Regions from separate parts of the Homo sapiens genome. Here region 2 is linked to region 1. A link means that fine-mapping ties the variant in region 1 to the expression of a gene that starts in the linked region. Tissue or cell type: pancreas. Region 1 holds a variant in brackets; the other region holds the start of a gene. All regions are shown on one strand. Distances are from middle to middle.

What was found. PIP is the estimated chance that this variant, and not a neighbour inherited with it, causes the effect.
Region 2: it holds the start of SLC25A21, and the variant in region 1 is fine-mapped to the expression of SLC25A21 in pancreas (GTEx, PIP 0.94).

The regions. Positions count from the first base shown.
Region 1 is chr14:37,064,541-37,069,932 of GRCh38, reverse strand. All of the region lies in intron 1 of SLC25A21 (solute carrier family 25 member 21), which reads left to right. Among named protein-coding and RNA genes, the nearest start is that of SLC25A21-AS1, 100 kb to the left of the region's middle. The variant A/G (reference allele first, on the strand shown) is at 2,522.
Region 2 is chr14:37,170,132-37,175,523 of GRCh38, reverse strand. It overlaps SLC25A21 (solute carrier family 25 member 21), which reads left to right and starts at 2,918. Exons shown (of 10, transcript NM_030631.4): 1 at 2,918-3,243. The coding sequence starts at 3,174. SLC25A21-AS1 (SLC25A21 antisense RNA 1) reads right to left here and starts at 3,498. Exons shown (of 1, transcript NR_033240.1): 1 at 1,730-3,498. RefSeq lists enhancers at 2,645-3,223, 3,224-3,803.

The DNA of each region.
Region 1 (5,392 bases):
AGGCAGAATTAGGGATCATATAGCCTTCTTTTTCATAGACCACCATGTTGCTTGTGTCAAGCCTTTTCTTGAGCAGAGAACCAGGGTTTTGTCTGCAAATTAATGCATAATAAATGAGACCCAGCCATTTGTATAAAAAGCAGAAATAAAAGTTTCCTTTAAGCTATTTCCTTTTAAAATGTTCCTGGAAAAGGGCCTCTATTCTTTTATTTAGAATAAAACTGGAAATGTGGTAGAAATATTTTTGTAGTAATTTTTTTTACAAATAAATTTTATTGGCATTCTTTGCTGTCTCTCCCAGTATGAATTAGTTCCTTGCATGATTTACTTCTGTTTTCAACGAAGAAGGCTGAAACTGATTAAAATTAAAACAGCCTGCAGTTCTATTAGGATGCATGTGGTACTGTTTCTCACCTTTTATCTTCTCTGATGATAATCATATATTTTTTCTTTCACAATATGCTGGCATGTTTTTAAAGGATGTCTACGCATATGTTCCTAAACACATATTTGTACACACATCAAGGATAGAGACATAAATATCATGAGGGCATAATCTACTGTTGCCACAGATACTCTATAATTTATCACAACCATGTTATACTCTCAGTAATTTATCTTATGAGATGGTGGGTGCAGATGGGTGCTCTTGAAAACCACACCCCTGAATCTGAAAAAGAATCAACTAATATGGTCGTATGTTTCAGTGTCATAAACAGTAATAAGAGAAGTACCTTAAGTTTTTTTTTTTTCTTTGAGATGGAGTCTCACTCTGTTGCTCAGGCTGGAGTGCAGTGGCATGATCTCGGCTCACTGCAAGCTCCACCTCCCAGGTTCACGCTATTCTCCTGCGTCAGCCTCCAGAGTAGCTGGAACTACAGGCTCCTGCCACCATGCCCGGCTAATTTTTTTTTGTATTTTTAGTAGAGACGGGGTTTCACCGTGTTAGCCAGGATGGTCTCGATCTCCTGACCTCGTTATCTGCCCGCCTCGACCTCCCAAAGTGCTGGGATTACAGGCGTGAGCCACCGCGCCTGGCCAAGTTGTCTTTTTAAAGAGAAAAATTGCTTTTTTTAGCTTATAATGTTTGGGGAGTCTCAAGAATTGAAAGAAAATATGATTGTGCTCATAGATCTTTTTCTGCCATATTATTTCTTTATGATCTTTATGCCTGTTACATGGGATGTACATATCAGGTGTTAATAAGTCAATTTGTATAAATACATTCTTCAATTGAGTACTACCCTTTGTAAGCAAGTAAGCAAAGAATTTGCACTGAATTATTAGCATCTAGCAATGTTTTTCCAGACAAGTGACTAAAATAGATTTAAATCAATTTACAAAATTACATTGCATTAAATTTTGATACTAAATGGGTTCAGTATAGCTATGTGATGCAATTATACAAAATGTGTTAATGTCAAAGAATACAACCAAAATTACAGCAAAACACATATAACTCTTTCCAAAACATTCATTTAATGAAAATCTACTGCAAAAAAAATCATCATACCTTGAATTGTTATAGTGCTTTCACAGTTAAGACACTCTTTCCTCTGACCCACAGAGAACTTTGTGTGAATTATCACACCCATTTTATAGACAGAGAACCTGGTGTCAGAGAGGAAAAGCACTTTAATCACTGTCACAAAATATCTCCTAGTTGGCTTCCCTTTCATCAGGCATCTTTCTTCTGTTCCATTTACCATGTGGCTGCCAGAATGACCTTTCTCCTGCTTAAAATCCTTCGGAGCTCCTTATTCCCGGTATGATGGACAAGTCCACAATGTGGTGACTATGAACCCTGACTCTGCTGTCGCGGCCTGTGTTCAAGTCCGGGGGTTGGCAAACGTTTCCTGTAAAGAACCAGATAGTAAATATTTTAGACTTCATGGGCTATACATCTGTGCCACCACTATCCAGCTTTGCTGTTGTAGGACAAAACAGATGGTGGGCTAGATTTGGCCTGCAGGCCATAGTTTGCTGACTCCTAATTTTGTAATAGAATCACTTAGAATACGGGAAGAAGATATCAGAAGTTCTATTTATATTTTGTTCTTAATCCTATCCTTTTAAATTATTTTTGTGCACATTTTATAATATACATAATATTTTCATAAATAAGTAAATCTACATGTATTCTGAGCACATGCTTAATTTTAGTTTTTACTGATAGGATTTGTATTTGATAGAGTTGAAAGACTAACTCTCTGCTTCACCAATCTACAGCCAAGCTGCTGGCAATTCCCTGAACACACTAGACTATTTTCTGCCTCCATACTTTTGTTCATGGAGTCCTCTCATATATTTACTGCTTTTTTTGCTTGTCATTACTTCTTGCATCTCAGATTTTCCATCTGGGATCACTTTCCTTCCGCTTGTAGTATATCCTTTTGGAATCCATTTTGTCAGGGTCCGATGATAGAAAAAAAATCTCTTTATTTGTCTGAAAACATGCTTATAATAAGGATGCATTTTCTGGGTACAGAATTCAAGGTTGGCAGTTATTGTCTCTCAGTAC[A/G]TTTAATACCTATGTATATAATTTCACAGCATCTTTTGGCTTTTGCTGTTGTTTTTGTGAAGTCAGCTGTCAAACTGATGCTCTTTAGGAATAATCTGTCCTTTACTTCTGGCTGCTTTTACTTCATTTTTTGGAGTAATGCAGTTTTACTCTGATGTTACTACAGGTTCATTTCATTTTATTTGCCTATTCAAAATTCACTGGGATTCATAAATTTGCGATTGTTATATTTTAGTAGTTCTAAAAAATGGTTAGTTCTTCAAATTTTGCCCCTCCTGCTTCCCCATTATTTTTCTTCTCTTCTTCTGGAACTCTAGTTAAATATATGTTACTCCTTAGCCCATTAAGCCTAATCTCTCTTTCGTATTTACATTTTTTTCCCCACTGTACTGTATTCTGGATAATTTCTTCTGCCCCATTTTTTAGAGTGCTAGTATTTTCCCTCATCTATGTCTAGATTGTTGTTGAATCCATTCATTCAGGTCTTTTGTTTTCTTTTTATCTGAAAATAATTTTAAACATTTAAAACTTCTAGATAAGTTGAAAAAGTAAAACAGTACAAAGAATACTTCTAAACTTATTATTCAGGTACATCTATTATCAATATTTTATGCCTTTATCTTTATTGTTTGTTCTCTGTCCTTCTCTCTCTCTCCATGTGTATATAATTTTAAATGTAAATATACATACTTATATATACATGTATATACACACATATACTTTTTAAATGAAATATTTATATGTGTACTTTTTTATGAACCATTTGTTGTAAATTACATACATCATGGTCCTTAACCCCTGAGTACTGCAGTGTTTATTTCTGAAGAGTAAGGATATTTTCATATAGCTACAGTACAAGTATGAATGTAAATACTTTTTGCATGGTAAATTTTAATTTACCACTTAAAAAGTATTAGTACAATGCTTTTTATTTCATCTGTTCACATAATCCATTTTTTCAGTTGACTCAGTGATGTCCTCGATATCATTTTATTCCTCTCCAGTGCCATGTGCAGTGTAGAGTCAGGTATTGCATTTAGTTGTCATGTCTTTGAAGCCTTTTTAAATCTGGAGCATTTTCTTAGCCTTATTTAGTCTTTCATGGCATTTACCTTTTGAAAGACCAAAATCCCCACTCTTACCTTTTAGAAATAGAATATTCCTAATAGGGGGTTTGTGTGATGTTCCCTTATGATTAGATTCAAGTTACACATTTTTGGCAAGAAGACAGCCTTTTTGATACTGTATTTTTCTCCGAGTGTCATATCTGGAAGTGTGGATACCAATTCTGATGAATCGGTTAAGTTACCTGATTTCTCCACCATCTAATTTCTTTTCCTCTCCTCTCTTGAAACTAATAAGCAGCTTGTGGGTTCGCACTTTAAGATTATACGAATATCCCGCTCCTTATACAAATTTTCCCTCAGATTTGGCATTCACTGATGATCCTTGCCTGATTAAATTTAATCTTTACTACAATCATTGTAAAAACCATTCGTTTCAAATTAGTTTTATTTCTCAATTCAAAAGAGTGTTCAATTCCTTTCAAATCTGCTAAGGCACATTTTGTTAATTTTTTTCCTCTTAAATTTTATCCCACTTTTTATTTCTATCTTTAAATATAGTATGCATAATTGTTTTACCATATATGTCTAATGATTCAATATCTGAAGTGTTTGAATGTACCCTTCTTTAAGTGATGTAAATTCAGTCTGCACATTGGCTCAAGGACCACCTTTTAGTTACAACTTCTCAGGGACATTCCTCCTTAATCTGCTCAGCAATAGACAAATTTCCTTAAGTCCCCTGGTGTTGGGAATGGAATGGAGTAGGACTTCTAATTTGCCCTTTCCCTGAGGGTGTAACCCTTTGGGGAAACAGTTTAATATAGAGAAGCACTTCAATTTGTCTCCTCACCTGCATGAACTGAGCTTTGATGTTGGTTTCTTCTCAGCCTGAGAGGTCTACAATTGACAGATGTCTTGAGCCAAAATAATCTCCAGAGCTCGGTTCACCTCCCTGAGCTCCTGCTTCACTTAGATTTTAGCCTGGTTAAAATACTTTCTTGTCAGCTTTTTATTATTTTAAGAAGATGCTTTTGTACCTTATCCAATATTGTTGTTTTCAGTGGGAAGTCTGATCTGAATAACCTAGGCTACCATGTTTTGTCACAGTATAATCTCTGCATTCAGGGTTCTTCTGTACCCCTCACACACTCCTCAGCTTTCAAATCTCAAGTGTCACCTCATCCATAAAGGCTTCTCTGAACAAATCCTTTCCCCAAAGTACCATAGATTATTCCTACTCCAGTTGGTCCCAGCATATACATATATACTGTATTTCACTTCATTGTATGGTTTGTTTGTTTTGTTTTCCTGTCAGTCTTTTCCAAATAGACCATAAGTTCCTTAAGAGCAGGTAATGTGTCTTATTTACTTTTGTATCCTGGGGGTTTGGTAGAGTAGCTGGCATATATTAGGCCCTTAACAGATGTGTGTCAAAGGAAGGGATGAAAGCAGATCTGCCTTCCCAATGTTCTATACTCTTTTGAGAATATGCATGCCTTGTCTTTATGTCCCTAGTGCTTACTACAGTGTCTGTCTCATAGGTGTCTAATAATTATTTTTGGACAAGAGTTTTTGTCAACCTGGAAGTGAAATAGGATAAGGGACAGAATGAGCAGTACAGTAAACCAATTGAGAGACACAAATGAGTTAATTCATAGAATGGGGTGTTGGTGATGGTGGTAGCAAAAATGATAGAATAACTGTGAGTCCTGAAGGGGTACAGTCTGGTTTGTGTATCCAAACAGAAGCAGATTTGGACTGTTGTGAATTCACAATTCACAGTTGTTTGGGGATCCAGGCTAGG
Region 2 (5,392 bases), 110 kb before region 1:
TAACAAATAGAGGGCTCCTAAATTATACTTACGTTCAAATTAATACCTTAGCCGAATACTCAGTGTTATTTTGGGGGAGTTACTTAATCTCAGTGCCAGAGTTTCCTCCTTTGTAAAACAGGAATGAGATAATGGATTACAAAATGCTTAATTAGCCCAGTTTCTGGGAGAAGGTAAAGTCAATGAATGTTGTTACTACAATTGACTAGATAGGTTGAATATGGCCTGAAGGTTGCAGATTGCTCTTTACTTTCCTAGAACCTCCCCTATTCTCCCCAAACAATCCAATTATCTTTTAATATGTTATTTCTAATCTGATATGAAACAAGAAATCAGATATCCACCCTTTTAAAAACTGGTTCTAAAATTAGTTCTAAATGGATTTCTGCATGTTGATGGCTTAGAGGCTTTCTTAACTCCTAGATTCCCAGTTATGTTCCTGAAGGGTTTTTTTAGCCACTTGACAAACGATAGGGAAGTCAATAATCATGTAATTATCAACCAAGATCAGCTAAATAAATCAATAATTTAAAGAATATAATCTTCATACTTTAGCAGTTTTGCCCCATTAGGATATCACATCACTATTCCAAATAATAATAGAACAACAATGTAATAGAGGCTAGGGAATCTGAAATAGGTCAAGTAAATATTACCATTGCTTCCCAGTACTAAATCTTCCAGCATTCCAATATTGGCCATGAGCAAATTTAGCTGCAGATAAGAATTACATTCCATTATCAGAGCGTTTAGCACAGTGAGTACTTATTGGCTCTGTATTGACTCTTGTTAACTCCCAAGCTCTAGAATGTTCTCATGCCTAGGCCCCATATCCTCTAGTATTCTAGAGGTATAGGACTGGATTATATGTGATATCAAGTCTTGCTTTTTTCACTCAAAGATATCTCTTCTAGTCTGGAGAGGTTAAAAAGAGGAAGTAACTTTTTAACAAGGATAACTGGGAGTTTTCCAACTGAATCCACAGAGCTTTTTAGAGGCTGGGTCTTAGACACAAACTTGCTCCCACCTACCATGGATAAGATCTTCAGAGGGGAAGACACTCATGGAAATAATTATGTCAAAAGATTGTCTTTAAATCTTGACCTAAAAGTATTATTGCATTTCCTGGATAACGTAGGGAAGGCAAAAATTTACTTACAAGGTGGTAGGATCTCCTCCATTAGATTGTAAGTGCCACAGGGAAGGGATTTGTAGTGATATTGTCAGTACCTAGGCAAGTGCTAACACTTAGTGAGCTCTCAGTGTAGAATCTGTTTCAGTGTGTGCACTAGGGTTTAATAGTTGTGACCAAATTTTTAAAAACTAAAAAAAAATGGAATTAATTTGTGGGGGTATTTGTGTCACAGAATGTAGTTTTTTTAGCCTGTGGTTAATATTTAAATCTACAATCCAATGCTATCAAAAGAAGGAGTCCTGTGATGGAATCCCAGCTATACTATTACGCCTAGTGTGATCTTGGAAAACTCAGCTTCTGCTTTGAAAAATGAGGAAAACATTTTCTATGAGCTCTGAAATTCTGTTTCTATACCTAGTATATAACAGGTTCTCAATATTTGTTGAATAAGTGATTCTATATTGCACTCAAGATTCCCTATTTAATTAGTAAAAAGTCTGAAAGATATTGCTCAAAAGCCTTTATCAAGTTAGCAAAATTTCTGAAAACTATTTCTTGGTAAACATTTTCAAACTTAGCAGTTTTAATCAAATATTTAATGAAATGAAAAACTTTATTTTTGTATATCTGATCACATAAGCAGCAAGTCTCCCCAATTCCTCAAGCACTTTAAATAATTTTGCCATATATCACTGATCAACTTTTAATGACTCAGCCTAAGAAATAAAAAATCAAGTATGAAACCAAATTATTGTACTTTGTACATTTGATTAGAAACCACATAAATTGAACCATACTAAATTGCTGATATTCAACGGTTTTTGACCTCCAAAAATGGCAATTTTTACATGGCTCACACTAAATATATTTAGCAATAAATAATGTGTTTTAAGAAATATTACAATAGGGCTTCTAAAGCCTCCCAATTCTCTCTTTTACTCTTATCATCTCCTGTCTGTTAGGGGTGTGGCAGGTATTTTTGGAAAATTTCACAATCTTATATCTCTCCTACATAACACAGGCAACTTGTAGTTTTAAAAGAGTATAAATTAGTAGTTTTGTTTTGGTAACTATCCTAAGGGGCTAGTAAGAATAATCAAACATTTTATTGAGAGAATATACTGTTAAGTTCCTTAATGTTCCTCAATTGTTTAAGTCAGTGGTTCACAACCTTTAAAGTTCATGACAATCAACAGAGAACTCGTTTCTGGGCCCTATCCCCAGAGATTCTGATTCCGTTTAGGTCGGGGTGGGACCCACGAATTTGACTTCCTAACACATTCACAAATTATGCTGATGCTGTGGGTACTAAAACCACTTTTAAGAACCACTGACCTGGGTATAGAAGAAACTATTTGTAACCAGGCTTTTTCTTCTTTTGGTCCTTAGGTAAATAAAACTCAAGTTGATGAGGTATGATTTTACCTTAAATCAAAACCATTTTTGGTAAAGTACTACCTTAGCTCTATTGTAAGGTAAGTGTAAATTAGATTTGCTTTGACTTAGTTGCTACAGACCACAATTATAGGACAACTAACTGAGGAATTTATTCACTTGTCCCTTCTTTTGAACCTCACTGTGCTCTGGCTTGCCAGGAGGTGCAAGTGTCGTCCCCGCTTTGTACTTGGCGCTCCAGGCCTGGGTCACTTCACTTGAGTTATCAGAGGCAACCGTCTAGTTTGACAAACTACCGGAGGCTCCTGATAGAGAAGGGCGTGGGCGCCAATCTAGGAGACAAAGCCTGAGCCGCTGCGGTGAGCCAACCCAAACCCATCCGCGGGTCTTCTTTCCAGAGACATTTTCGGAGCCGAGGGCGCCTCTGCGAGAGCGCTGCGAACAGGTTCCGACGCGCCGGAGATCGCGCGACGAATCTGCGCCTCGAACCCTCGCTTTCCAGCAGTCGCCGGATTGCTGCTCCACAGGGAGCCAACGCGCTTGAGGACCAGCCCAGCCGGGGCTCTCTGGATCAGTAGGCTGTGCAGGCTGCGAGCTCGTTGACGCATCTCAGCCCACTCCCTTGTCCTCCCGCCTGGCGAAGATGTCCGCCAAGCCTGAAGTCAGCTTAGTGCGCGAGGCTTCTCGGCAGATCGTGGCCGGTGGTTCTGCAGGTAAGGACAGCCCGCCCTGCCCCGCCGGAGGCTAGTCGCTTTCCCCACCGCGTGTCCTGAAACCGTTGCCCAGACAGGTCTCCTTACTGAAGTTCTGCCCTCTTCCTCAAAATTCAGCGCTCCCGGAGCAGTGCTTGAGCCCCTAGAGGCGCGAGAGCAGAGGAGGCCGGGAGTTGATTGCGAGTAGTGGGTGCCCCAAGTAAAGTTGCCTCGGCGTCCGCGCCGGCCGCTCTCGGGTTCCCGGCATTGTCCGTTCCTAGCCTGTAAAGCAAGTGGCAGAGCCCCAAGGGCAGCGACTTTGAGGCGGTCTTTTTGCCTTGCTACCTATTTTACTTGAAAATGATCCAGTTCGGTCTGACTTAGTTTTATCAATTGTAGAGTCTTTCTTCAAGCTCGCTCAGGTCTTACATAAATCCTGCATTCCTCATCAAAGTACTTACAGGACTCCACAGGACTTCTTATTGCATACTGTGCTTGCTTGGGGATATTCGTGCCTTAAATAAGGATATTAAAATTAAATGCATATGTAACACACATAAACACCTTTGATATAATGGGCTCACGTTAATTTATAGAGTTATGCTGTGGGGAAAAAATAAACCTTTAGAAAAAAATGTTGTAATTAATCTTAGAAATACTTTTAAATGTAGCTGGAGAAAGTTACTAACCACGACATGTGTTATGTGCAAGTATTTTAAAGCTATTTTAAAATATAAATTATGATTTGGTTTAAAATTTTATCTTACAGTCATGCATTTTTATTATAAATATATAATTAAAATAATTGCCATAATTGGCTCATAACCAGAAAACATTTTATAAATCTAGCCATTCTTTCAATAAATTATAGTAACTCTAATAAATCCTGTTAAGGCAATGACTAGAAAATGTTTAATGTTTAACTTCGACTAGTAAAAGTTTCTGTATTTTCAAACAAATTTGGACTTTTTGTAAGGGATTACTGCAAATTATGACTGGTTATCATTATGTCATGATCTACTTGCATCTCAGGAGTAACGTAAGCAGCCACGTGTCACTTACAATCTGTACACTTTCTTAAAGATGGTATTTCATCAATATCACATTAGAGCCATTCATTGCTTACAGGAAATTGTAAAATCTTTCCCCTCCCCTCCCCACCCCTCCCCTCCCCTCCCCTCCCCTCCCCCCTTTTTCTTTTCGATGGAGTCTCTCTCTGTTGCCCAGACTGGAAGGCACCGGAGCTGGATTGCCATGGCGCGATCTCGGCTCGCTGCTCCAACTCCCGGGTTCAAGCAATCCTCCCATCTCAGCCTCCTGAGTAGCTGGAATTACCGATGCGCATCACCATGCCGGCTATTTTTTTTTTTAATTTTTTTTGTAGAGACGGGCTTTCGCCATGTTGCCCAGGCTGGTCTCAACCTCCCGGGCTCAAGTGATCCTCTCACTGCAGCTTCCAGAGTAGCTGGGACTACAGGAGCCCACCACCATGCCCGGCTAGTTTTTTGGGGAGGTGGGGGAAGGGGATTTTTTTTTTTGTAGAGTCAGGGTTTCACCATGTTGTCCAGGCTGGTCTCCAACGCCTGGGTTCAAGCAATCTGACCCCCTTGACCTCCCAAAGTGGTGGGACTACAGGCGTGAGCCACCACCCGTTATTATAATTGCAGTGGCCCCACTGCTTGCTCTTTCAGTTTTCCAATTGTGATGATGAATTTGCACCAATTTATTTACCATTTTTGGTCAAATTCCGCAATGCCTAAGGTTCTGTCTTCTGTACCTGACTCGTTGATTTGTAGTCTATGACCCTGATGAAAGAAAACTCAGCTAGTCCAAAGAGAAAGTGAGGCCAATTGATTAACATCCTAAGCTAAGACTGATGACTCATAAGCACCTGTATGCTAATTTATATGATCATACTATGTATTAGGCACAGCTAAACTCAAAGAATGTTAAAAGTAGATCATACTCGGCCAGGCACGGTGTCTTACGCCTGTAATCCCAGGACTTTGTGAGGCGGAGGCAGGCGGATCACCAGGTCAAGAGATCGAGACCATCCTCCCCAACATGGTGAAACCCCGTTTCTACTAAAAATACAAAAATCAGCTGGGCTTGGTGGTGTCCGGCTACAGTCCCAGCTACTTGGGAGGCTGAGGCAGGAGAATCGCTTGAA